Homo sapiens: one gene and its partners. The protein of the gene in region 2 purifies or fractionates together with the protein of the main gene of each other region. This does not show direct contact. Each region holds a gene or a part of one and is shown on either strand. Other genes may lie near its edges. The genes, in order: MGAT1, ADPGK, MIPEP, PAM, PDIA5, GALNT7 and TMEM214.

What was found.
Region 1: the proteins of ADPGK (region 2) and MGAT1 purify together in Homo sapiens (affinity purification with mass spectrometry; 2 studies listed by BioGRID and IntAct, with this or other methods). This does not show direct contact.
Region 3: the proteins of ADPGK (region 2) and MIPEP purify together in Homo sapiens (affinity purification with mass spectrometry; 2 studies listed by BioGRID and IntAct, with this or other methods). This does not show direct contact.
Region 4: the proteins of ADPGK (region 2) and PAM purify together in Homo sapiens (affinity purification with mass spectrometry; one large-scale study listed by BioGRID and IntAct). This does not show direct contact.
Region 5: the proteins of ADPGK (region 2) and PDIA5 purify together in Homo sapiens (affinity purification with mass spectrometry; 2 studies listed by BioGRID and IntAct, with this or other methods). This does not show direct contact.
Region 6: the proteins of ADPGK (region 2) and GALNT7 purify together in Homo sapiens (affinity purification with mass spectrometry; 2 studies listed by BioGRID and IntAct, with this or other methods). This does not show direct contact.
Region 7: the proteins of ADPGK (region 2) and TMEM214 purify together in Homo sapiens (affinity purification with mass spectrometry; 2 studies listed by BioGRID and IntAct, with this or other methods). This does not show direct contact.

What each region holds. Positions count from the first base shown.
Region 1 is NC_000005.10:180,792,807-180,796,306, reverse strand, and holds part of MGAT1 (alpha-1,3-mannosyl-glycoprotein 2-beta-N-acetylglucosaminyltransferase), read left to right. Parts: intron 1-431; exon of another isoform or gene 432-1,426; intron 1,427-1,940; exon of another isoform or gene 1,941-2,040; intron 2,041-3,209; 5' UTR 3,210-3,335; coding exon 3,336-3,500. UniProt on the Homo sapiens protein: Initiates complex N-linked carbohydrate formation. Essential for the conversion of high-mannose to hybrid and complex N-glycans.
Region 2 is NC_000015.10:72,756,259-72,759,758, reverse strand, and holds part of ADPGK (ADP-dependent glucokinase isoform 4 precursor), read left to right. Parts: intron 1-1,469; coding exon of another isoform or gene 1,470-1,694; intron 1,695-3,311; coding exon 3,312-3,500. UniProt on the Homo sapiens protein: Catalyzes the phosphorylation of D-glucose to D-glucose 6-phosphate using ADP as the phosphate donor. GDP and CDP can replace ADP, but with reduced efficiency.
Region 3 is NC_000013.11:23,879,401-23,882,900, forward strand, and holds part of MIPEP (mitochondrial intermediate peptidase), read right to left. Parts: intron 2,388-3,500; coding exon 2,299-2,387; intron 1-2,298. UniProt on the Homo sapiens protein: Cleaves proteins, imported into the mitochondrion, to their mature size.
Region 4 is NC_000005.10:102,947,305-102,950,804, reverse strand, and holds part of PAM (peptidyl-glycine alpha-amidating monooxygenase isoform e preproprotein), read right to left. Parts: intron 2,428-3,500; coding exon 2,360-2,427; intron 1,269-2,359; coding exon 1,188-1,268; intron 904-1,187; coding exon 827-903; intron 89-826; coding exon 1-88. UniProt on the Homo sapiens protein: Bifunctional enzyme that catalyzes amidation of the C-terminus of proteins. Alpha-amidation is present at the C-terminus of many endocrine hormones and neuropeptides and is required for their activity.
Region 5 is NC_000003.12:123,154,025-123,157,524, forward strand, and holds part of PDIA5 (protein disulfide-isomerase A5 precursor), read left to right. Parts: intron 1-946; coding exon 947-1,017; intron 1,018-3,500.
Region 6 is NC_000004.12:173,175,311-173,178,810, forward strand, and holds part of GALNT7 (N-acetylgalactosaminyltransferase 7), read left to right. Parts: intron 1-3,500. UniProt on the Homo sapiens protein: Glycopeptide transferase involved in O-linked oligosaccharide biosynthesis, which catalyzes the transfer of an N-acetyl-D-galactosamine residue to an already glycosylated peptide.
Region 7 is NC_000002.12:27,039,080-27,042,194, forward strand, and holds the end of TMEM214 (transmembrane protein 214), read left to right. Parts: coding exon 1-85; intron 86-661; coding exon 662-758; intron 759-950; coding exon 951-1,119; intron 1,120-1,265; coding exon 1,266-1,417; intron 1,418-1,631; coding exon 1,632-1,758; 3' UTR 1,759-2,615; downstream 2,616-3,115. UniProt on the Homo sapiens protein: Critical mediator, in cooperation with CASP4, of endoplasmic reticulum-stress induced apoptosis. Required or the activation of CASP4 following endoplasmic reticulum stress.

The DNA of each region.
Region 1 (3,500 bases), on a different chromosome or scaffold from region 2:
TAGGAAGAAGACAAGTGGTTGGTGGTGAATGCTGGCAGGGGCTGGTGAAGTCTCCCCAGGAGGGAGACAGAATCCATGTCTCTTTAGAGGCCCTTCAGGATCAGCCCTTTTATACCAGATCTGCTGGTTTGAGAGCCCAGAGCCTCAGAGGTTAGATCTGAGGCCCAAGGTTTTGGCCAGGATTAGAGAGTAGCCTGTGAGGCAGAGGGCAACTGGCAGAGCTGTTGGTGTAAGAGGGTGCACGCCTGAAGCTTTGGGGTGTAAAGGGTAGACCAGAGGCAGGACAGTCAAGGAGTTATGGTCTGGAGTGGCAGCTGGCTGGGAATTGGGGAGTGTTTCAGATCCTTTCAAGTAATGTGGTCTGGTAGAGCTTGGAGGATTGGTGGGACCATGCCTTTTTCTCACTGGTTTGTGTCCTGGTTCCTTCCCAGAGCCTGGCAGAGAGCAGGTGTGTGATACACGTCGTCAGGTGACTGACCGAGGAATTCAGGGCAAACAGATCATCTCAATTTGCCTTGCTGATGTGCCAGCTGGGATTACGCTGATGGATGAAGCTCTTCAGAGCTATGGGCAATATCTACATATTTGATTGTCAAGAAACTTCGTGTGGAAATAGCTTCAAACTTACACAAATTGCAAGAATAAAAAATAGTATAAGGATATTCGTACACACTCTCTTTACTCAGATTCACCTGTTAATATTTTGCTCCATTTGCTCTCTATGTGTGCAGAGTATGTTTTTGTTCTGAACCATTTGAGAAGTTGCATCTATCCTGGTCCTCTACTTCTCAATACTTCAGTGTGTATTACCTAAGAATTGGAATTAATCAGTTATCACTGATACTTTAACCTACTGTCCATATTCCACCTTTGTCATTTTACCCAATAACGTCTTTTTAAAAAAAGTTTTTTGAGGTTTCATTGACATACAATTGATATCAATATGTGCAAAGAACTGCATATAAAGTGTACAATTTGATAAGTTTTGACATATATGTGTGTGTGTGTATATATATATATATATATATACCTGTAAAAGTATCACCACAATCAAGATAATAAACATATCCACCCTTCTAGAAGCTTCCTAATGCCCCTGTGTAGTAACTACCCTACTGCCCTTCTCTGCCTCCATCCCCAGGCAACAACTGATCTGCTTTCTGTAATATAGATTAGTTTCTATTTTCGGCAGTTTTATGTCAATGGAATCACAGTGTATGTGCTCTTTTTTGTTTTTCCCAAAAAGACCCATATTGTGTAATTATTTGGAGATTGTGTTGTGTATGTCAGTGGTTTATTCAGTTTTATTGCTGAATATTATTCCATTCTATGAGTAAACCACAATTTGTTTATCTGTATTTCCCTGTTGATGGGCCTTTGGGTTATTTCCAGTTTTGAGTGATTATGAATAAAGTTACCATCAACACTCCTGTGTAGGTTTTTGTAGGGACATGGCTGAAAGTAGAAAGAAATGGGGCATGCAGGAGAGACTGGGCTTGGTTATAACAGCCTGTTATCCCTGGGGAACTAGCTCACTCACCAGAGGACGTTAGGAAGGATCTGCCCCTGCCCCCCTTGTGATCCAAACACCTACCACTAGACCCCACCTCCGGCAGCACCACCACACAGGGGATCAAATCCCAACATGTGTTTCAGAGAACAAACCATATTCAAGCTATAGCATAGCTACGTAATTATTATAACACTATTAATAAGACCATCTTTGCCTTGGGAATTTTAAGTAGCACCTTTATTACATATTAGATTTTTTTGTGTAATGAGTCTGTTTCTGGAGCTTAAATTCTATTTCACTGGATGGTCTGTTTATTTATGTACCAGTACCACGCAGTTGTAATTATGGAGGTTTTGTAGTATGCCATATATATATATATATAATAAAAAAAAATTTTTTTGAGACAGAGTCTCACTCTCTTGCCCAGGCTGGAGTGCAATGGCACAATCCAATCACAGCTCACTACAGCCTCAGCCTCCCAGACTCAGGTGATCCCATCTCAGCCTCCTGAGTAGCTGGGACCACAGGTGCGTGCCACCATGCCCAGCTTTTTTTTTTTTTTTTTTTAATTGTTACTTGTAGAGACAGGGTCTCCGTGTGCTGCCCAGGCTATTCTTGAACTCCTGGGCTCAAGTGATCCTCCTGTATTGGCCTCCCAAAGTGCTGGGATTGCAGGTAGGAGCTACTGCATCTGGCCAGTATGCAGTATTTTCATATCTGGTAGGGCTGAGTCCCTCCTCACAGCTTATTTTTATTGTTTTCCTAGTTTTTCATGTGAACTTTACTGTCAGTTCGTCTAGCTCCATAAAAAGGTATTTTTATTGGGATTTTTGATGATGCTGAAATGTCCTGACCAAGAACAAGGGATATTCAGATGTTCTTTTGTGTCTTTCAGGAATGATAGTTTTGTTCACATAAGTTTTGAATGTTTAAGTTTATTTAAGTTTATTTCTAAATATTTTCTCATTTCTCTGGCTTTTGTAAGTAGGGTTTTCTCATCCATGTTTTCTTCTCATGAGTTATTTGTGGATATGAAGGCTATCCATTAGTATATGTTGATTTTTATATTACACTTCCTTGCTCAGTTCATTATTGATTCTTTTTGAGTTTTCCAGGCATATTCTCACAAGTAAAGATAATAGAAATAGTTTGCTTCCTTTCCACTTCTGCTTTGAATTTTTTTTTCTTGGTTCATTTGCATTGGCTGCTTCCTCCAGCAAAATGTTAAATAACCCTGGAGATGATGGGCAACTTCGTTTTGCTCCTGACATTCGTGGGGTGCCTCTGGTGCTTCCCTGTTGGTAAGGGGTTAACTGTAGCCCTGAGGTGGGACATTTGATTTTAAAAATCAGTCATCTTGGGGCGCTTAGGTTAGAGGAATGGTAGGCAGATGCTGTCACTCCTTGCCCCTCCCCTCCTCCTTCCCACCTGGAGGGGAAATGAAATCTGACAGGTAGAAAGAGGGGAGTTGGGGTTCTTTTTCTCTCTCCCTCCACCAGCATCACTCTCTGCCTCTCCCTCAAAAATACGTTCCTGGGTCAGGATATATGTTGACTCCCTAGAGAGCTCTGGAGTCAACCTCCTGGCCTTCCTCCACCCTCACTCTTGGCCTTTTCCTGCCCCCATTTCCTCTACCTGTGGGGCATGGAGCCACGAGCCTTTGTGTGACGGTTTGCTTTCTCTCTCCTGTCTTTAGGTGCATGGCTGCCTCCTAATCCCATAGTCCAGAGGAGGCATCCCTAGGACTGCGGGCAAGGGAGCCGGGCAAGCCCAGGGCAGCCTTGAACCGTCCCCTGGCCTGCCCTCCCCGGTGGGGGCCAGGATGCTGAAGAAGCAGTCTGCAGGGCTTGTGCTGTGGGGCGCTATCCTCTTTGTGGCCTGGAATGCCCTGCTGCTCCTCTTCTTCTGGACGCGCCCAGCACCTGGCAGGCCACCCTCAGTCAGCGCTCTCGATGGCGACCCCGCCAGCCTCACCCGGGAAGTGATT
Region 2 (3,500 bases):
CTGTGTATTTCCTGCTGTAATTTTCCCTCTGCTCAGAACTCAGACTCTTGAGTTTCTGATTCAACACATTGTTAATACACATTAAAGACTCAAGCATCTAAACAGACTAATTGGTACCTTAAAGCAGCACTTAATACTCTTCAGTGAACTACTTCCAAGTCAATTAAGAGAATCTTCTCTACTAGAGTAATTAACTTTAACATAAGATATGAACTATGTTATTTCTTGAGAATTATGCCTTTCTCCAGGTAGAAAAAAGAGTTGTAACATGTTCTGGTTCTCTTTCGGGTGCTTACTAGAATCAGTTGGGAATTAAAGAAGGATAGGGTCTGAAAATTAGGGACACAGCGTTGACGTAGGCAATTCATACTTAATGCTACACAAGTTTTTGAGTTTCTCAGCTTTAGTTTTCCCAAATGGGAAGTAAGAGTAATAGTTTTTACTGCCTGATCATTGTGGTAAGGATTAAGAGATTGGTTGGTGTGCGGAAACATTGTGAGCAGCTTGGATGAAAAGATGACCTGGCCGCACGTGGTGGCTCATGCCTGTAATCCCAGAACTTTGTGAGGCTGAAGCGGGTGGATCACAAGGTCAGGAGTTCAAGACCAGCCTGGCCAAGATGGTGAAACCCCGTCTCTACTAAAAATACAAAAATTAGCCAGGTGTGGAGGCGGGCGCCTATAATCCCAGCTACTCAGTAGGCTGAGGCAGAGAATTGCTTGAGCCTGGGAGGCGGAGGTTGCAGTGAACTGAGATTGCACCACTGCACTCCAGTCTGGGCAACAGAGCGAGACTCCGTCTCAAAAAATAATAATAATAAATAAATAAAAGAATGACCTGACTGTGGACTGGAAGGGTCTGGAATTGCTAAAGATGAGCCCCTGAGGTATTGCTGCCATGAGTTCCAGATTCGTGTCAGTTTTTTTGGCACCCACAGCAGGAACTGGGGACCTTTGTGATTCCTGGTTTGTCATTTTTCCTGGTGACTACAGAGTGGAGAGTCTTACGTCTTCAGCAAGACTTTGATGTTGTATTGGACAGCTGTGCCTCGTATGTAGTTAAGGAGACAGCACAGTTCACCGCACAAAGAGAGTGTCTCCATCCTTGGGTTTATAAGCTTCACACTTCAGTTTTTCTTTCCTATGCCTCTTCTGCATACAAAGCAGTGGACTTCCATTAAACTTTGTGAGGTGACATTTTCCTAGGTCCAAGGAGGGAGCCTAGTCTAGTGGCAGTAGCCCTGGGCTCAGCTCTCTCAACAGAAATCCATTCCCAGCTTGTCTCTGACCTCAATAGGGAAATTCCAAGGGATTTGTCCATTTTTTTTTCCACATTCTCTCTTACCAGATCTCCCCAGAGAAGCCCATTGTCAGGCTTGGGCTGGGAATCCAGTGAGTCACTACGCAGAGGTTTTGCTGACTTACTGGCTGAGGGCAGGATGATACATTGAGAAGAGATTGCTTACAGGAATGAATACAACACTTTGTGAGGAAAGAGGGGCGCTAACTACCATTACAGGCAGAATTAGATCCATTTGCATCTGCCCCCTGCATGGCCTCTCCAACGGGGCCATGAATATGCTGGAGGTGTTTGTGTCTAGCCTGGAGGAGTTTCAGCCAGACCTGGTGGTCCTTTCTGGATTGCACATGATGGAGGGACAAAGCAAGGAGCTCCAGAGGAAGAGACTCTTGGAGGTAATGGCACTGTTACAGAATTTCACAGATCTCAGCTGGTGGTTTTCTTCAGGTTCCAGCCTCTCTTGGCATCTGCTGCCTTGTTTCCTGTGGAAACAGCAAGCAGCTCTGCACGGTTCTTCTCATCCTTGCCTTGCAGAAGAGCCTGTTTATTTTTGCCTCTGTCACTTCCTGAAGAAATCAGTGTATTTTCAATACAGTGTGGCTCCTTTCTCCTAGGTTCAGTTAGGTCGTGTTTCCTAGCAGTGTCACTATTCAAGGGTTGAGTCCACGTCTTGCTCTCTGGAGAATGTCAATGTAATGTATTTTTCCCATCGTACAGAGTCTTTGTTGATTTGCAAAATGTTGGATTTGGGGTTCATACCCATATTTTTTGTTGTCATGGGCATTTAGGTCATCAGTCTGTTCTCTTATTTGCTTGTTCTTTTGTTAATTCATTCCCATGGCTATATGCCAGACACAGCATGATGCAGAAGGAATACGACAGAGGATGACACAGGCCCTGCCCTCAGCTCACAGTTTACTGCCAGAGATAGACACTTGGAAAAAGTAATTGCAGGCCGGGCATGGTGGCTCACGCCTGTAATCCCAGCACTTTGGGAGGCTAAGGCAGGCAGATCACCTGAGGTCAGGAGTTTAAGACCAGCCTGGCCAACATGGTGAAACTCCGTCTCTACTGAAAATACAAAAATTAGCCAGGCGTGGTGGCGGGTACCTGTAATCCCAGCTACTCGGGAGGCTGAGGCAGGAGAATCGCTTGAACCTGGGAGGCAGAGGTTGCAGTGAGCTGAGGTCGCGCCATTGCGCTCCAACCTGGGCAACAGAGTGAAACTCCATCTCAGAAGAAAAAAAAAAAAAAAAAAGGAAAAAAGAAAAAGGAATTGCAAAATCATGTGCCTCAGTCCTGTATTAGGGTACAGTGGTGGCCCCAGAAAGGAGGTAATCAAGTCTGCTTAGGGGTGGTAGGATTAGGAAAGGCTTCATGTTTAGGGAGGAACTAGCACTTGAACTTGGGTCTTTAAACAGTCATTCCTCTAAAGCAACTCACATAGAAGCAACTGGAGCAGCTAGATAGTCTGATCCTTTGGATCAGGTGCCCAGAAACCACTGATGGGCAGCAGGGAAGAGGAGATGCAGTGAGCTTGGCTGTTGGGAAGAAATTCAGCCTGCTTAAGTTCCAACTGAATGAAAGATGCTCAGGGCAATGCTGTGAGGAAGAATGTGCTTTAAACAATGACAGCCTATACTGTCTGCAGGGCGTGCGTGCTGCACACTGTATGCTGGTATTTGGAAGTCATGCTGCCATTCTGTACTGTCTCTCCTGTGTTTGAGAGCTCAAGTAGGGCTCTCCTGGGACTCAGGGGGAGCTAATTACCTTGAAAAAGGCATATAGCACCCATACTATGTTTCTGTTTCTTGGCTGGGTTTGGGTTTAGGTTTTTGGTTTGTTTCTTGCAGTGCCATGCTGACCTTAGGCCATTGTTGCTGGGGTCTCCTCAGCCAGAAACCAGCCTGCTTGGAGCCAAGGCTCCTGTGAGGTGCCTGAAAGTGCCCCCACAGCTAGGAGACCTAAAGCCTCTTCCTTTTCTTCCCATTGTGTTGACTGGGTTTTTCCAGGGGAGGAGTGGGGCCAGTTAAAAGCTCCCCATGCCAACCGATTCATCTTCTCTCACGACCTCTCCAACGGGGCCATGAATATGCTGGAGGTGTTTGTGTCTAGCCTGGAGGAGTTTCAGCCAGACCTGGTGGTCCTCTCTGGATTGCACATGATGGAGGGACAAAGCAAGGAGCTCCAGAGGAAGAGAC
Region 3 (3,500 bases), on a different chromosome or scaffold from region 2:
TATTTTTAACTTTACATGAAAAGAATGGTGTCAGCTTGTACCACACACATGCCCAGAAGCTGAACAGCATAACCTACCAGGAACAGTGTAACCATCCTTCCTTCCTTCTTTCCTTCCCTTCTTTCTTTCTTTCCCTTATTTTGGAGACAGGGTCTCACTCTGTCACCCAGCACCCAGGCTGGAATGCAGTGGCACAATCACAGCTCACTGCAGCCTCAATCTTCTGGGCTCAAGTGATCCTTCCACCTCAGCCTCCCAAGCAGTTGGGACTACAGGCATACACCACCACGCCCAGCTAATTTTTAAATTTAAAAACACTGTAAGGGAGAGCTCAGGACACAGGCTTCAGAGCCACCCAACTGGGATGCAAGACTGGCCTTGTTACTGCTGTGGGACCTTGGACACGTTATTTAGACTTTAGGCTGCCGTGAGGATTAAATGAGATCATGTGTGCAGCACACATTTCCTATGTGAATGAACCATGGCCACTGTTGAGCAGTTGTGCCATCCAGAGAGCAAAGGGCCCAATGCTGGGCAGTGGTCCCAACCCACCCCATAGTACCACTAGCAGGAACCCAGTCCTCTTCCCTAAATGCAAATGCCATGGCCCCCTCAAAACTAAATAGTGAGCTGGGTCTAGATACAATCTGCACCCTGCTGGGTAGGTCTTCAAGGAGGGATAAGGTTGTAAGAACCACTCACCAGTCGCTACTCAGAGACTCAAGGATACTCCTGTTCCTCAGTTGGTTCACAAAAAAACACTTAAGATTTATATGAATCGAAGGGTTTCTGCTACCATTCTCATGGGCCTTCCCAAATACTAGTGAAACGTAGATAGTCATTACCCATCAAAAAAACACTCACCAAGAAGGGCCAGACTCCCACACACGGATCCCAGAAGTCAGGGAGAGAGTGAGTGTGGAGGCCTACCTCCTCCCAACCTGCTCACCCACGGAGCCACTCCATGGCAAAGGAACAGTAGCTCAGAGGCTGCCCGCACTGCCCCCACTGCAGAGGTTTAAGGAAATCTCCCAGTAGTATGTTTTATGTTGGAAGACCCTGAGATAAAGCCCATACTTCAGTCTGTATTTGTCCTCCGACAAAATGAAGAGTGCTTGTCCATGAGACCAGCCCACGTCTAATTCGGCAGGACACAGCATGCAGAGAGCCTCGAGCAGGCAGCCCACTGCTGACTCCTTCCCAGGGGCCTTTCCCCGAGAGGCAAAGCTTTCTCCCAGGGAGTCCCCACTTTCAGCCCTGTCAGCATGCCCAGTATCTGCACTCTGCAGGGCCCCGTTCTGTCCCATTACGCAAGTTGGTTTTCAGCGGCTATGGGAAAAGTCACACACGATTGTGCCAAAGTGAACAAATGTTGGCGACCTGGGGAAAAGCAGCAGCTGCACATCTTGAAGTGTTGGGTCTTCCAAGGAAGCCTCGTCTAACCAGAGAAGCCATCACTCTCCTCCTCCAACAATTTCTGGCATATGAAATTGTCTTATCGTGTTACCCCCTTTTCCCTGTTGTAAATCCACGCTGGCGAGCCCAGGGCTCTCCCTAGCTCTATACACTGCCTGGCATGGTGCCATGCAGCTAAGTGTGTTGGAATACAGCGCTGTCCACCATTCAGTTATTTTAACAAGCATTATGGAGCTCTTATAAGTGGCTTAAAAATACTCACATTTACCCCAAAATCACTTTAAAATAATTCACTCTATCACAGCCTCAGCCAGAGCATGCTCCAGCCCTCCCACAGACTTTTACAGCCTCCCTAGACTCCCCTAATTCCAACTCAACAGGGACCACAAGGACACTGTTTATAGAGCATTTTGGCTTCTCGCCCCGTGGCCCACAGCCATTGATGCAACAGCAATTTAATCAAGCGATAATCTAGTAAGTCCAACTTGCCACTAGGACACTAAAAAGCCCTTATTTAAGGTAAGTGATAATGGTGATGACAAGAATCCTGGGTGTCTGTCATCTCAGATTATCAAGTGACACCTTTACATTGATCTCATTTAACACTCACAAGGACCCTGAGGCAGGGTTAACTTTTCGACCCCATTTACAGACAAGGAAATGACTGAGAGAACAGACAACCAGCCCTAAGGCCCAGTGCCTGCCTGCGAGGTGAGCCAATGGCCTGTCCTGAGCCCTCCCTCCGGCCACCCCTGGTCACACACACCTCCCACCCTGCTGGGTGAGGGACAAGCGCTATGGACAAAACTGCCTACGGCACAAGTCCATGAAACCGGATCACCCAGGACTTGGCATGGAGGTGGGGAGGGGAACAGCACATACTTCTCTACCATGGTGCCAATACTTCTACAAGCTTCTTCCGCAGCTTCTCTGAATGCTGGCTCAGGGTGAGCGATTTTCACAAAATCAGCCTAATAAAGGGGAAAGACAAAACCAAAAGGGAATTTGATGAGAAGCTTTCTTCCAGGATCTGAGGGTGAAAATGAAAACTGGGTTTTAAGATGTGCCATTGGCTTGCCCTATGCATTTCCATTACTGACTTTTTCCTAAGCGAGTAAAGCAAAGCAGCTTCTTTCTGAACATTTAATTCTGTTATTCCTTGAAACCAAGTTTGTTTCACTCCAAAAAAAGACTTTTATTATTTCAGAAAAGTTTTTCTCTTTCAAATATAAACACCAAGCAAATTCTTTCTTTCTTTTTTTTTTTTTTTTGAGACGGAGTCTTGCTCCGTCGCCCAGGCTGGAGTGCATTGGCGCAATCTCAGGTCACTGCAAGCTCCGCCTCTCGGGTTCACGCCATTCTCCTGTCTCAGCCTCCCACGTAGCTGTGACTACAGGTGCCCACCACCACGCCCTCTAATTCTTTATTTCAAAAGAGCAGACACTGGTTTCAAATATTCTACAACTTTCTGGCTAAAATTCTTTGCAGTATGGTTTTCACATGTTAACTTATCTCCAGAAAACAACTCTTAAAGGCTTTTTTTTTTAACTGACACATAGTATAGTTTCAAAACCCATTTAACTACATTCTAGTCTTTGATTTAACTACATGGTAGTCTTTGTGCAGAAAACAAAGGCACGGTCTCTTCATAGTCCTTTCAATAAAATATGAGTTCGTAGTCTCCATGTAATACTGTATACAGCTACTACTGCTGCTGCTACTTAAGTCATTAGACATTAAAATGAGTGACAGTTCTTTTTTAAAAAGATAAAATGATGTAAAACTAAATTTTTGTTTTCATGTCAACTGTAACAAAAAGCAGAGAAACTACAAAACACTACATATTTTATTTGCCAAGAAAATGTGACTATAACATGAAATAAAATCACCACAAGATAAAATTTCTTAATTTTATTATCAAATAGTTTTTAATGCCAAAACATTTAAATCCATAGTTTGGTATATTTGTTGTAACAATTGGTAACGATAAAATAACATTAGTACCAAAGTACCTGAAAAATGAGTTATGTAAATTTACAACATTTTTTTTTTACAAATTACTAATCTACGGGTTGTGAATTTAT
Region 4 (3,500 bases), on a different chromosome or scaffold from region 2:
CTGTCCTTCCTTCACCAGTGAATACACATCTTGCAGCCAGTAGGTCACCAAAACTTACATCAACTGGATGCCCCACAGGGTAGAAAGCCTACCAAAAAGACAAACACAATGAATCATTAATATTACCAATAAAATCCAGAACTACATGTTTGACTGTGTTGAGGTATGTTCCTCCTTTACCCCTTTTTTGAGGGTTTAATCATGAAGGGATGTTGAATTTTATCAAATGCTTTTTCAGCATCCATTCAACTGATCAGAGGATTTTTGACCTTAATTCTATTGATATATCACAGAACCCCATGCTTTAATAATGTGAAGCTTGGTACACTCTGGGTAGAGAGGATGAAGACAGACAGTGAAATAGACACACACACACACACACACACACCCACCCACATACACAAATAATCACTGGATAAAAACAGTTCACCTTTAATCATCGGATAAAAACAGTTCACCTTTAATTAATAACTTCTACTTTATGACAAGAGCACCAAACTTTGAAATAAACAAAAAAATACTATTAGCAAATGCATCCCATAAAAATCAGAATAAATGTGATAATAGAAGAGCTGTCTGAAATACTGTCTTTGAATAAATGATGGGATGTGAAAGGCCACCAACATGGTTTGACCATATTGAGAAAACTGACAAAGAAAGCAACAAATTGGAAGTTGCAAAAAGGAGGTTATACAGCTCAGTTATACAGTTAAGGCAGATTTAGAGATTTTTAGAGAAATTCACAAGAGTTGCATAATAATTTTTAAAAATTACTTTCTGCTGGTTAATATTTTTTTCTCTCAAAATTAAACTAGATTTTACCCACCTGTGGCAGCTGAGGGCTCTGCCGTCCAATCAGTGTCCACTGTCCATTTCTTACTCTGTATCCACTTACTACCTTACCTGTAATAAACACAAATTTTAATCATTTAATATAATAAGGTATTAGAAAAACAAAAGGCATATTTACTTTCCTACTTTAAAGTAGAAATCTGAGTATTTTCAGAGCTGCAAAGACTGAGTATCTTAAAAAAACAATATGATAAAACAGCATAAAATATTTCAAGGTCTTATATGAAATCACTTTCATTGAAACAGACTTAAGGTCAAACACAATTTGCATTTTAATTTATGGCACCAGGAAGCACAATGGTAAATATTTATAATTTAACATGTAAAGTTCTTACCTAAATGGTGAGTGTGAACTCTATAGGCAAAGACATGCATTGGATAATTTTTATAATGGCATGAAATGTCAGAATTCACCACTGTGGGAAATGAAAACACAGACAAAAGTCACTATTCAACTGGAAAATGACATTATTCTTATCTAAAATTATGCATAGGGTATTCACAAGATGCTAGGGACTGAGGTTTTCTTATGACTTAAATACACAGATATTAAGCACTTATTCTGTGCCAGCCACTTTACTCACATGAATTAAGAACCCCTTGCCTTATATTTTTATTTTATTCATAAACAGAATGACTAGAACCAAATCAAAATACTCTGTTAGTGAAAACATAGGCTTAATTTGTTACCTTTAGCTTGAAATTTATCCAGTTGAGAAAGCTTAAAAATTGGTTTTTATTTTTGGAATGAAAGAATTTTTGAAAAATTGAATGCAGACACCTAACATCACTACATTGACAGTTCCTGTTGAGAAGAGGCCATTTCATACTGTTCCTTCCTTATAGTCTAACACAGTAGCTATTCAATAAATATTCATTTTATAATAGATGAAAAAATGGTAACAAAGAGACCATACTGGTCATTAACTTTAAGAGATTCCCAGCGAAAACAAATGAACAATATTTCATATGGCACTTTCATCAGAGGATCGTAAAATATATTGATAAATAATAATATACTTATTCTCATCGCTTCTAGTAAGCTTGGGAGAATCAGCTATTATCATCCCCATTTTGCAAGTAGAGAAGTAAGCCAACTATATCCAAGTTTAAAGACTAAGTTGGTGCTGGATTTGCTAGTCGTTTAATTTTTAAATCTTTCTATGTAGAAGTTTATGTCACTGCTCATTATGCAGTGTGTCCTCTGCATCTCAAGAATGGATGATTTATTTTTAAATACTCAAGATTTATTCTTTAATTTATATAATACACACCTACACAAGGGCCTCAATTCCTAGCATCTCAATAAAGAATGGAAAAGTAATAAACCACTGGCTTGGAATAATACAAAAATCTATTTTAAATCCAAGGACAATAAAGTATTGGTTCATTTTTCCAAGACATAAAAATATTGATTATTTTTAAAGTTTATAAAAAATACAGTATAAATCCATTTCTACAGATTAGGTAATGAGGTAATGGTAAATATTAAAAAATCATTACTCACCTTTTTCTCCTGCTGGGATAACAGTGTCAACAGACATCATAAGGTACATGCCAGCAATTAAAGGCTGTCTGCAGAAAAAAATAACATTTTTCTAAAATACCTGAAAAAGTCAAAATGACTGTTTTGGAAAAACAGCATATACCTCAATACTTTGGTTTATAAAATGTGATGCTTTTGAAAATTGAAGTAGAAAAAGAGGAAAAATTTTTCTTCCTTAAAAAATACTTTTTCATGTGAAGGCAGACTCTAAATGGTTCCTGTGATAGCTAACTTTACGTGTTGACTTGGCCAGGTGCCTGGTTGTTTGGTCAAACACCAGTCTAGGTGTTGCTGGGTAGGTGATTTTTAAATGTGATTAACCTTTAAATTAAACTTTGAGTAAAGCAGATTATTTTCCATAGTGCGGGTGGGCTTCATCCAGTCCATTGAAAGTCTGAAGAGAAAAGACTAAGGTCCCCTCAAAAGGAAAGGATTCTGCCTGTGAATTGCCTTTGGACTCAAGAATGCAACATCAACCCTTCCTTGAATTTCCAATTGGCTCAATGGATTTAGGACTTAATCAGTCCCCACAATAGTGTCAGCCAATCCCTTACAACAACTCTTTCTCTTTCTCTCTATTCTATTGGTTCAGGTTTCTTTGGAGAACCCTGACTAATCAGCTCTCATGATTCCTAGCTGTGACATTCATGCCCTGGTCTAATCCCCTGCCCTTTAATGTGGGCTAAAAGAAGTGTAGTAACATCTTTTTAAACATTTTTAACATTTTTTTTATTTCCATAGATTTTTGGGGAACAGGTGGTATTTGGTTACCTAAGTTCTTTAGTGGTGATTTCTGAGATTTTGGTGCACCCATCACCCAAACAGTATACACTGAACTCAATTAGTAGCCTTTTATCCCTCACCTCCTTCCCATCCTTTACCCTGGGAAGTCCTCAAAGTCCACTGTATCATTCTTATGCCTTTGCATTCTCACAGCTTAGTTCCCACTTATGAGTGAGAACATACAATGTTTGGTTTTCCATTCCTGAGTTACTCGGTAACTTATCTTTAACAAATAGAATATGGCAAAAGTGATGGTATGCCATTTTGAACATTAGGTTACTGAAAGACTCTGGCTTCCATCTTGCATGCATGCCCTCTC
Region 5 (3,500 bases), on a different chromosome or scaffold from region 2:
TGAGAGAGGAGGGGGGTTTGGGTTCTGATCTGTTAGTGCTGAGGGAAGGGCTGGATCAGCCTGCAGCTCCTGGGCTCACCAGGACAGGAGGAGAAAGTGGCCCCCACAGAGGTCCCTACCCTGCTTCTGAGACACTGAGGTCAGAGTTGGGGCTCAGGGTGATGCCCAGAACAAGAGACAGATGCTGGAGGTAGGGGCCCCAGTATAGCTCAAAGGCCTTAGGCTGCTCTGACAAGCCTTCTCCCTGGGACAGGGAGCATCAAGGGACCTGAGGACTGCCTGGTGACTTCCCGTAGCTCCTCTCCCTCTTACCCTGACCATGGCCTTCCTGTTCCTGGCTTTGAGGTTCTGGTTATTGTAGAGCAAAGAGTAGATGGAGACCTGGGGACCAGGGCCTGATTTGGCTGCTCACAGTCTGGGCTGGGTGGAGGTTGCTAGGAATGCAGAAGTTAGCAGCAAATCATGAGCAGTGGGTGCAGAGTAGTTGCCCCAAAATCCCCCCACCCTGCATTTCCCAACGCCACTTCCTCTCAGTCAGGAAATGGAGAGATTTGCTATTGTCCCTGGAGCAAGAGAAGATTGTAGCGGCTCTGAGAATCCCGTGCCTTCCTCTTTAAGCCCAAAGCTCCCTCTGCCCCCAAGATCAGGCTGTTCCTCGTCCTCTGTGGAAGGAGCAGAACTAGACTACAGTGACCATCGCCCCCCAGCCTGGGCAGGAGCATATGATGCTTGTGACAGGGACTCCTACCAGTCCCCCCTACCAATAGATCAGACATGGGTGGGAGGTGGTTAGAGTGGCAAGGTTGACAAAAGGACCCTGACAGTGTGGCGGGCAGTGGGGAGCTCCTGGAGAGCCCTCTCTGGAGCTTTCAGGAAGGGTCCCTGGCCCTGCAGCCTCCCTGCACATGCATCACAGTCCTGTGTGCTCTCTTCCCCTCTCACACAGGGTGCCCACACTGTAAGAAGGTCATTCCGCACTTTACTGCTACTGCTGATGCCTTCAAAGATGACCGAAAGGTAAGGACAGCGCTCTTCATCTCTTGATCTGCCTGCAGCTAATTCCTACACCTTCCTTCTTGTCATTCAGGTCCTTCCCCAAACAGGGGCAGGTCTGCTAAGACCTGTAAGCAGGAAATTCCTTGGGAACCAGGACATTCTCTTTAGAAGGAAGATAGGGCAGGCTGGATTTATGCTGCAAAATCAACTAAAAGGGATATGCTGAACCATTCCAGCACTTACTTGGAGGAGAGGGATGGTTAAAGGGGTCATCTATTTACTTTTTTAGTGTTTGAACCTTTTTACTGTAGGATTGTCATCATGCATTACTTATATAATTAAAAATACAAATTTAAAAATCCAACAAAAGTCAACTGGAGGATGCCATGGTGGAGGAGAGCAAGGCCATGTCAGTGGAGCCTCGCCCTGCCTAAGTGAAAGGCTCCTGCAGCTGCCGACTGATGAAGCATAAAATTAACAAGCTAGAGCTGCAGATTGGATTAGAGTGCAGGGCCTCCAGGCGCGTCCCCCAGGCACATCCCCCAGGCAGCTGGTGCAGTGGGGGCTTCTGCTGGGAGAGGGCTTGTGGGGCAGGGAAATACCCCTGAATTCGGGGAAGTGTGATTGACTGCCAGCCTTTGAGTTCCCTTCTCATCCATGCCAGGCGGAGCACTGGTGCAGAGGACTGCAAACATTCCTCCCAGCCCTGAGACTCAGTCATGGGAACCTCTGGCCTAACAGGCCCTAGAAGCTGGCAGTCACGTGGGATCTGCATTCACACACACCCAAACCCAGAGTCACGTGCAGGGGTGCCTTACTTTCCTGGGTGGAATCCCAGGTGGGGCCAGGGCAGGCTGGAAGGAACCAAGGCCAGGCATAAGCTGAGCATAGAGTCCTAGATGATAAACAGGCCAAGCAGGCCTAGACGGAAGTTCAGCCGAGGCAGGAAAGGGGAGCAGGTATTAGTGGAGCAGCCCTCACAAGCAGAGACAGATGACCATCCCAGGGCCGGGTGGGCAGGGTTTGAAGTTTTGATCAAGGCCAACAGGAGGTCAGGCCTAAAGGTACCATCCAGACCTTGTGGGAGCAGAGATACAGGTGCTAGGATCACCTTAACAGGCCCAGAGACAGTGGCAGAGATGGGGTAATGAGAACTTTACAGGGACATAAAGCCAAAGGAAGCCAGGCTGGGGACAGGCCCATGCAGGCAGAGTGGGGATGAACTGGGAACCTGATTCTCACTTAGACCCAGAGCCCAGGACTCTCTCTGGAGTCAGGAGGTCCCATTGTTACCCGAAAGCCCTGGCTGCGGCTTTGAGGCACCCCTCACCCCCACCAGAAGGGAGTACAAGGACCAGAAGCGTTTTCTCCTCTGCCTGCCCCTTTCCCTGCACTGAGTGGGGTATGGCAGCAGGGGCTTCCTTCCCGTGTCCATGTCCCTCATTGTTCCCACCCACTTGTGCACAGCACAGGGTAGTTGCTCCTGCTTGGTGGTCCCACGATATCCAGCATGGCCTGGGCTGCCAGTCCACAGGACCGGAATAGCTGCCACTCTGTATTGACGTCCATCACGTGCCACCCAGAATGCTGGGTGCTCTGGGCAGCAGGAGAAAGGCTGAGGTGTGCCATCTCCCTGTCCCACTGGACACTCAGGTCTCCATAGGCCCCAGGAGATCTGTGAGGGTCCTGAGGCATGACTGGCAGACAGATCCTGGGCTTGCCCTCCCAGCCATGCTGGGGAGCATGGTGTCAGGGAGCGTGGTCCAGCTGAGGCACCGAGGGGGCTGGGGAAACCCTGAAGGGGCAGCCCCATTGACGTGGCCCCTTTCTGCCCACTAGACCGCCGCTGAGGCTGTCCTGTGGCCTGACCCACATCAGTGCAGGTGAGGCCAGACTTGCCAGGCCTCCAGCGGGCAGCTGAGAGCCCACGTCTTCTCTTCCCATTCCCCCTGCACTGCTACATGGGGGCCCATTTCCTTGATGCTCCCCTCCGCTTAGACACTGACACACCTTTGCTTGATTGTCTTGGGCCAGTGGTGTTGTGGCCTTTTCCTGGGTTCAGTCCTCCTGTCTCTTATTCCCTCTGTCTCTCCTTTCAGCTTCCTTTATTCCAAGCCAGGGATCACCCTCACTTGCATTCAGGAATGCACTTCATAACCTCTCTGTCTGAGGCAGGTGGCCTGCCTGGGTTTCCTGGAGGTTATATTCATGACATCAGGGAAGCCAGCCATCTGGCCTGGGGGGCTGAACTTACTGGTGCCCACTCTGTGCTCCAGGCATGGCACTGTGACTACTGGGTCCCATCCTACAACTATCAGATCAGAGTCTCTGGGGGATGGTGCTGGAAATTTGTGGTTTTTAAGAGCTGGCTCTTGTGCTGGCCACAGGCTGGTGTGTGGGGACTGTTGGCCTGTCCCCTCTCCCTTTACTCGTGAGGGATCCAGGCCCAGAGAGGAGCTGTGTCCCTTGTTCAGGAATGCCCAGCGGGTCACTGACAGCCAGAA
Region 6 (3,500 bases), on a different chromosome or scaffold from region 2:
GTTTATTTGTAACAACCACCCTCTATTGCAAGTCCGATGGAATCCCAACTTTATAGATGAGACTGTTGTGGTATAGAGAGGTGAACTCTTTGTCCAAGTTTATTCACTTAATTAATTGTAGAGCCAGGATTCAATCTCAGGTGTTCTAACTTCAGAGCTGTGCTCTCTGATCTTGCACTACAGTTTTTAACAACACAGACAAGTACACATGGGCTACATTAAAAGGTGGATATGTAGACGCTAGCTGGGTAATTTCAGATAAACACTGAAGACAATATAGATGGTCCCTGACTTACCATGATTCAGCTTACGATTTTTGACTTTTCAATGGGTTTATCGGTGTGTAACCCTGTCATAAGTCTGAGCACATCTGGACTTAAGATGTCTTATGATTCTTCAAGTTTACAGTGGGTTTGTTGCAGGGTGTAACCCCTTGTAAGTCGAGGAACATCTGTACATGGTAATATGAAAGAGAATGGGAGGCTGGTGCGGTGGTTCATGCTTGTAATCCCAGCGCTTTGGGAGGCCTAGGCAGGCGAATCACTTGAGGTCCGGAGTTTGAGACCAGCCTGGCCAACATGGTGAAACCCTGTCTCTACTAAAAATACAAAAATTAGCCAGGCATGGTAGCACACCCCTGTAATCCCAGCTACTCAGGAGGCTGAGGCAGGATAATTGCTTGAAGCCAGGAGGCGGAGGTTGCAGTAAGTGGAGCTCGCGCCACTACACTCAAGCCTGGGCAACAAAACGAGACTCCATCTCAAAAAAAAAAAATTAAAAACAAAAAGAAAGAGAATGGGTTGGAAGGGACCACTCAGGGAATGTCAGGGAAGGTGATGGCCAGAGCAGAGTCTTCAGGAGTAAGTGTAAGACTATCATGCAAATCTGGCGGAAAAGCATTCCAGGCAGAGGGAACAGAAGTGCAAAATTCCTGAGGTTGGAATGAGGCTGGAGTATTTGAAGCCAGTATGGCCGGAGTTTGTTGAGTTTGGAGGTAGTACAGTACGGGATGAGCTTGAAGATGTAGTCAGGACTCAGATGATGGGGGTGTGTGGCTCTTGTGGTCTGTTATTAGGGTGATTATTTGTTTTAGTTTACATTTGCTGCCCATTAGCCATTATTATCCTTTCACTCTCAGAAGTGTCCTGGGTTGGATGGTAAATTATATGGATGTCTTGCTTAAAGTGTATTTTCCTAGATAAATAAAATGAGTAATAACCCTTTTTGGCCACAGTTTGTGGGCCAGATGCACAAGTAAACAATTGTGCTGGGTAAGACAAAAACTGTATTAGTTAAGTCCACTGAGTCCTGTGGGAGCACAGAGAAAGGAGCATCTAGTGTATGGGACTGGATGCTGTCAGAGAGCTTGTCTTATAAAAAGAGATGCTGGAGAGATGAGGACAGAGGAGACTGTGCAACAGCATAAATAACTGTGACCAATCCTGGGGACTACATGGCTGAAAATTGGGTTGGAGAGGGGTGGAATGGAAGAGAGGACTCTAGAAAGATAAATAGAATCTGAGCCATGAAAGACTTTGAATGGTCAGAGCTGGGCTATAAGGAATAATCTGGAAACAGTGCAAGCTAGATTTTAGTGAGGAGAGAATTATGTCCGAAGGATATAATGAAGCTTAAACTAAGGAGAAGGACCTAGAAACTGAATACAGAGGAAGAGATTATGGAAGTATAATAGAATTGCCCAGTGGGAGGAGGAATCATTCTTGATGGTAAAGGAAAGGATGTTGATGCCTTTAGAAGGAATACAGCTGTCCAAAGCACTGGCTCTCAAACTTCTTTAGGCTTCGGAGTCACCTAGAGGGTGTGAGAAAACGGATTACTTGGCCCCATCCCCCGAATTTCTGATTGAGTAGATTTAGGGTAGAGCAGATAATTTGCATTTCTAACTAGTTCCCCGGGGATGCTGATGCTGCTGGTCCAGGGATCATGCTTTGAGGAGTGCCAGTCTAGAGGTTATATAGATTTGGGGGCTGCAAAATGAAAATGAAAAATTTGGTTTGGTTTGGCATATAGTATTTTATAGAACACAGGTCAGTCAAGTGAAGGTGTCTTAACCAGGTCGATGGAGCTCAGAATGGAATCAGAAGTGGATGCATTTCATTGGCCAGAGGGTGGTGTCTGAAGCACAGGGAGTGGGTTGGTAAGTTAAAGGAGCCTGTGTGGATGGAGGAGAAAAATGTGTGTATTAAGAAGAAACATGGAAAATGCCTTCTTTTAGGCTCTAGGAGGTTGGTGGGGAGAGATGAAAGAAGGCATAGACAGAAGTAAAATGACTTAGACGATATTGCCTAACCGTGAGCAAAAATAATTTCTTTAAGGACAGGGCCATCAACAAATTCAGATGTTAAAATGTTTGAGAACTGATTAGAATGAAAGCTGAAACGAGTGGCTGTGGAAGCATTACCTGCCTGCTAACCTAACCAGTAGTACTTTGGTCTAGAGAGGGACTACAGCAGCATCATCATTAGCATCTCAGTAAATATTGTGGCCCAGAAAAACTGGTTCAGATGATAAAGAAGTTCAGGTCGTGAAGAGTCATCTTCACTATGGGAAAAATACAAATAGAGAAAAAGTTTTATTAGAGAACTGTAACTATCAAAGAGGAACTTAACCCATTTTTGGTTATATCTGGGCTACCATAACTTTATGTGCCTTTCCACCTCTCCCTATCCGCAAGTCTGTGTGTGTGTGTGTGTGTGTGTGTGTGTGTGTGTGTGTGTGTGTGCGCGCACGCGCGTGCGCACAGACACCTATGTATATATATTTTAGTTGTGATCATATATAATACTATATAAGATAGATATTGCAACACATATTAGTCTTTTTTTACTCATGTCTGAAATCTGGTGATTTGAAAAGCTGTGACTAGAAAACCAATTTAATATTTAAAGTTGGAAAATAAATTTTATTCTGAGAACATGAGGCAATTTTTAGTTTTTAGTACATTAATTTGACTGAAGGATATTAAAAAAACAATAGCAAAACTATGCTATTCTCAGCGTAGAGAAAATGTATGCTCAGCATTTCAATACTCTTAGTTTTTAAAAATGAGGTTTATCATTAAATTATAGTTCAGCCCTGTGATCCTGAAAGCAACACTGAGACAACATGAACTGCAGTCACCTAGGGCCTATGTCTTTTTGGAAAGGGAAGAGCTAACTTTCAGTTGCTTAATTTGCTAAGAATCCTGAATATTTCCAAATGAGAAATGTTCTCATTTCTGCACCATTATAAATTCCCTTCTGGGCTTCCCAGCCTTGGAAGCATTTTCAGGCATCACTCCCAAGAAGCATTTAAACATGCCGACAGGGAGACCTGATTCACTTCACTGAATACAAGAACTGGTACACTGAAACTTGAGGAAAAATTTAACTTTACATTATCTAATTAGGTTTATAGAATTGGTGCAGAGCAGCCTGGTTTCCCAAATCTAGAAGGTACGATTAACTATAGTATTATATCAATACCAACTAGTCTGCGAA
Region 7 (3,115 bases), on a different chromosome or scaffold from region 2:
CCCTGGACGCGGCTCCTCCTGTTGCTGCTGGTCTTCGCTGTAGGCTTCCTGTGCCATGACCTCCGGTCACACAGCTCCTTCCAGGGTAAGCAGCAATGGGCAAGCGAGGAGGATGGTGTGGGCGGGGCACAGAGCTACACGTAGCACCACCACCCCGCCCCCAGCAGCACACATCTTTGTCCTGACGAGTTCTCAATCCTGCAGAGTAAACACTTTACAGACAGATTTTTTTGTCCACAGATATGACACTACCATTTCAGATTGGACTAGGACTTCGCAGTATAGAAGTGCTTGCATATTCATAGTATCATTTTAGTAGGTGTTACCTCCTTTTAACTCCTGAGGAAATGGTCTCAGAAAGATGTAGCAATTAGCTTTAGGTCATAGCTAGTAAGTAGAAGGGCAGACCCTCAACCTGAGGCTTCCTGAAGCCTGAGCCTAGGCTCCAACCGGCAGCTGCATTCCTGCACACCTGGCCCAGCAGGAGAAGGGCAGCTCTGCATGCCTCCCTCCACAGCAGCCTGGAGCTGGCTTTGTGGCCCTGTGAGAACACAAAGCTCTGCCCAGCGCCTCGCTGTGCCTGCTCTGGGCCCTGTAGTGTCTGTCTCCCCAGTCCCTGCCCCTCTCACCTCCCAGCTCACCAGAGGCCCCCTTTACTTAGCCTCCCTTACTGGCCGGTTGCTTCGATCATCTGGCTTCTTACCTGCTAGCCAACAAGCGTGTGCCAAGCTCTACTCCTACAGTCTGCAAGGCTACAGGTGAGCTCCTCCCAGGGAGGGGAGAGGAGAGGCAGAAGAGAGAAGGCCTGGGTGTCAGGGAGGAGGCGACAGTCAGTGGGAAGCGCTTGTGATTCTCCTTTCCCACGGCCTCCCTTTCCCCAGCTGTTTCTTGGGAGCTAAGTGGGCCTGAGGAGACTCAGAGCCCTCTTCCCCCACTTCCATCTTCCACAGCTGGCTGGGGGAGACACTGCCGCTCTGGGGCTCCCACCTGCTCACCGTGGTGCGGCCCAGCTTGCAGCTGGCCTGGGCTCACACCAATGCCACAGTCAGCTTCCTTTCTGCCCACTGTGCCTCTCACCTTGCGTGGTTTGGTGACAGTCTCACCAGTCTCTCTCAGAGGGTAAGTCAGAGACAGGGAGTCAAATAAGGGGCTGGTTTTCCCAGGAGCAGAATTCTGGGAAAGGAGCAGCACTGTGTGGCCTGAGTCTTTAGGGCCAGGATGCAGTTCCCTGGATACTCTGACCCCATCCATTCTCCATGGTCCAGCTACAGATCCAGCTCCCCGATTCCGTGAATCAGCTACTCCGCTATCTGAGAGAGCTGCCCCTGCTTTTCCACCAGAATGTGCTGCTGCCACTGTGGCACCTCTTGCTTGAGGCCCTGGCCTGGGCCCAGGAGCACTGCCATGAGGCATGCAGGTGAGACCTTTGCCCAGGGCTCCGGCAGGATCCCCAGCAGCCCCATTCCCGGGCCCCAGGGACAAGCCATCTCTATCCAGTCTCCCACACTGTCCTGCCCCTCGCTCCCATTCCTGGCCACCCTGGGATGAGGGTTGTGGGTCTAAGCTTTCATCCCCGAAAGTTGACACAGCTACTCACGTGCATACTCAAAAATGTTCCACTTTCCTTCCAGAGGTGAGGTGACCTGGGACTGCATGAAGACACAGCTCAGTGAGGCTGTCCACTGGACCTGGCTTTGCCTACAGGACATTACAGTGGCTTTCTTGGACTGGGCACTTGCCCTGATATCCCAGCAGTAGGCCCTGCCTTCCTGGCCACTGATTTCTGCATGGGTAGACCATCCAAGACTGCAGCGGGTAGAAGGTGGCAGTTCTTCATGGGAGTCTTTTTAACTTGGTGCCTGAGTTCTCTCCTAGGCAAGTGGCCAGTTGCCTCCACCTCAGTTCTTCCATCTTTGGTGGGGACAGGGCCCAGCAGCATCTCAGCCTCCTACCCACAATTCCACTGAACACTTTTCTGGCCCTACTGCACATGGCCCCCAGCCTCCATCCTTGTGCTGGTAGCCTCTCACAACTCCGCCCTTGCCCTCTGCCTTCCACTTCCTTCCATCTCATTTCTAAACCCCAAACAGCTCATCTCTAAAAAGATAGAACTCCCAGCAGGTGGCTTCTGTGTTCTTCTGACAAATGATTCCTGCTTCTCCAGACTTTAGCAGCCTCCTGTTCCCATTCTTGGTCACAGCTCTAGCCACAGCAGAAGGAAAGGGGCTTCCAGAAGAATATAGCACCGCATTGGGAAACAGCAGCCTCACCTCCACCTGAAGCCTGGGTGTGGCTGTCAGTGGACATGGGGAGCTGGATGGAAATGCCTCTCACTTCAAAATGCCCAGCCTGCCCCAAATGCCTCTAAGCCCCTCCCTGTCCCCTCCCTTGTAGTCCTACTTCTTCCAACTTTCCATTCCCCATCATGCTGGGGGTCTTGGTCACAAGGCTCAGCTTCTCTCCACTGTCCATCCCTCCTATCATCTGTAGAGCAGAGCACAGGCAGTTGTGTGCCTTGGGCCCAGGGAACCCTCCATCAACCTGAGACAGGACTCAGTATATGGTTCTTGGGTATGCCCTACCAGGTGGAATAAAGGACACAGATTTGATTTCTAGCATTCTTGTCTGCATCCTCATATAGAAATTCCCCTAGTTATGGTTCAGAATAACAAAATCCTGGGCCCTTGCCCTCCTGAAGACTGTAGCCGTGGCTGTAATTAAGCTCCTGGTGGGGGAAGCCCACACACATGGTTCTAAAGTTTGACCTGGTGGGTGTTCTAGACACTTCTCTTGCTACCCTAATTATAGTGTCTGACTTGTCACTGTGATTCACGTCCCAGATTTGCCTTGATAGTTTTACGCTTAGAAAAGCAGGGGGCCGTCTCCTAGGGGAATTCTTGGCCAGTGACCAGGAGGTGTCCTTTCCTTGCCAGGACCTTCATTTTATAGAGCAGTGAGTGAAAGATTTAGAACTCCAAGGGACACATGAGTCCAAGGTTTATCACCGAAGCCCCTTTTTATTTTTGACTTGAGACTATAAGGAGTTAGATAACTCTGCTGGTTTCTTAGTTCTCAATTTTGTTTCCTTAAATGTTTCAAGTCAGCAGTACTAGAG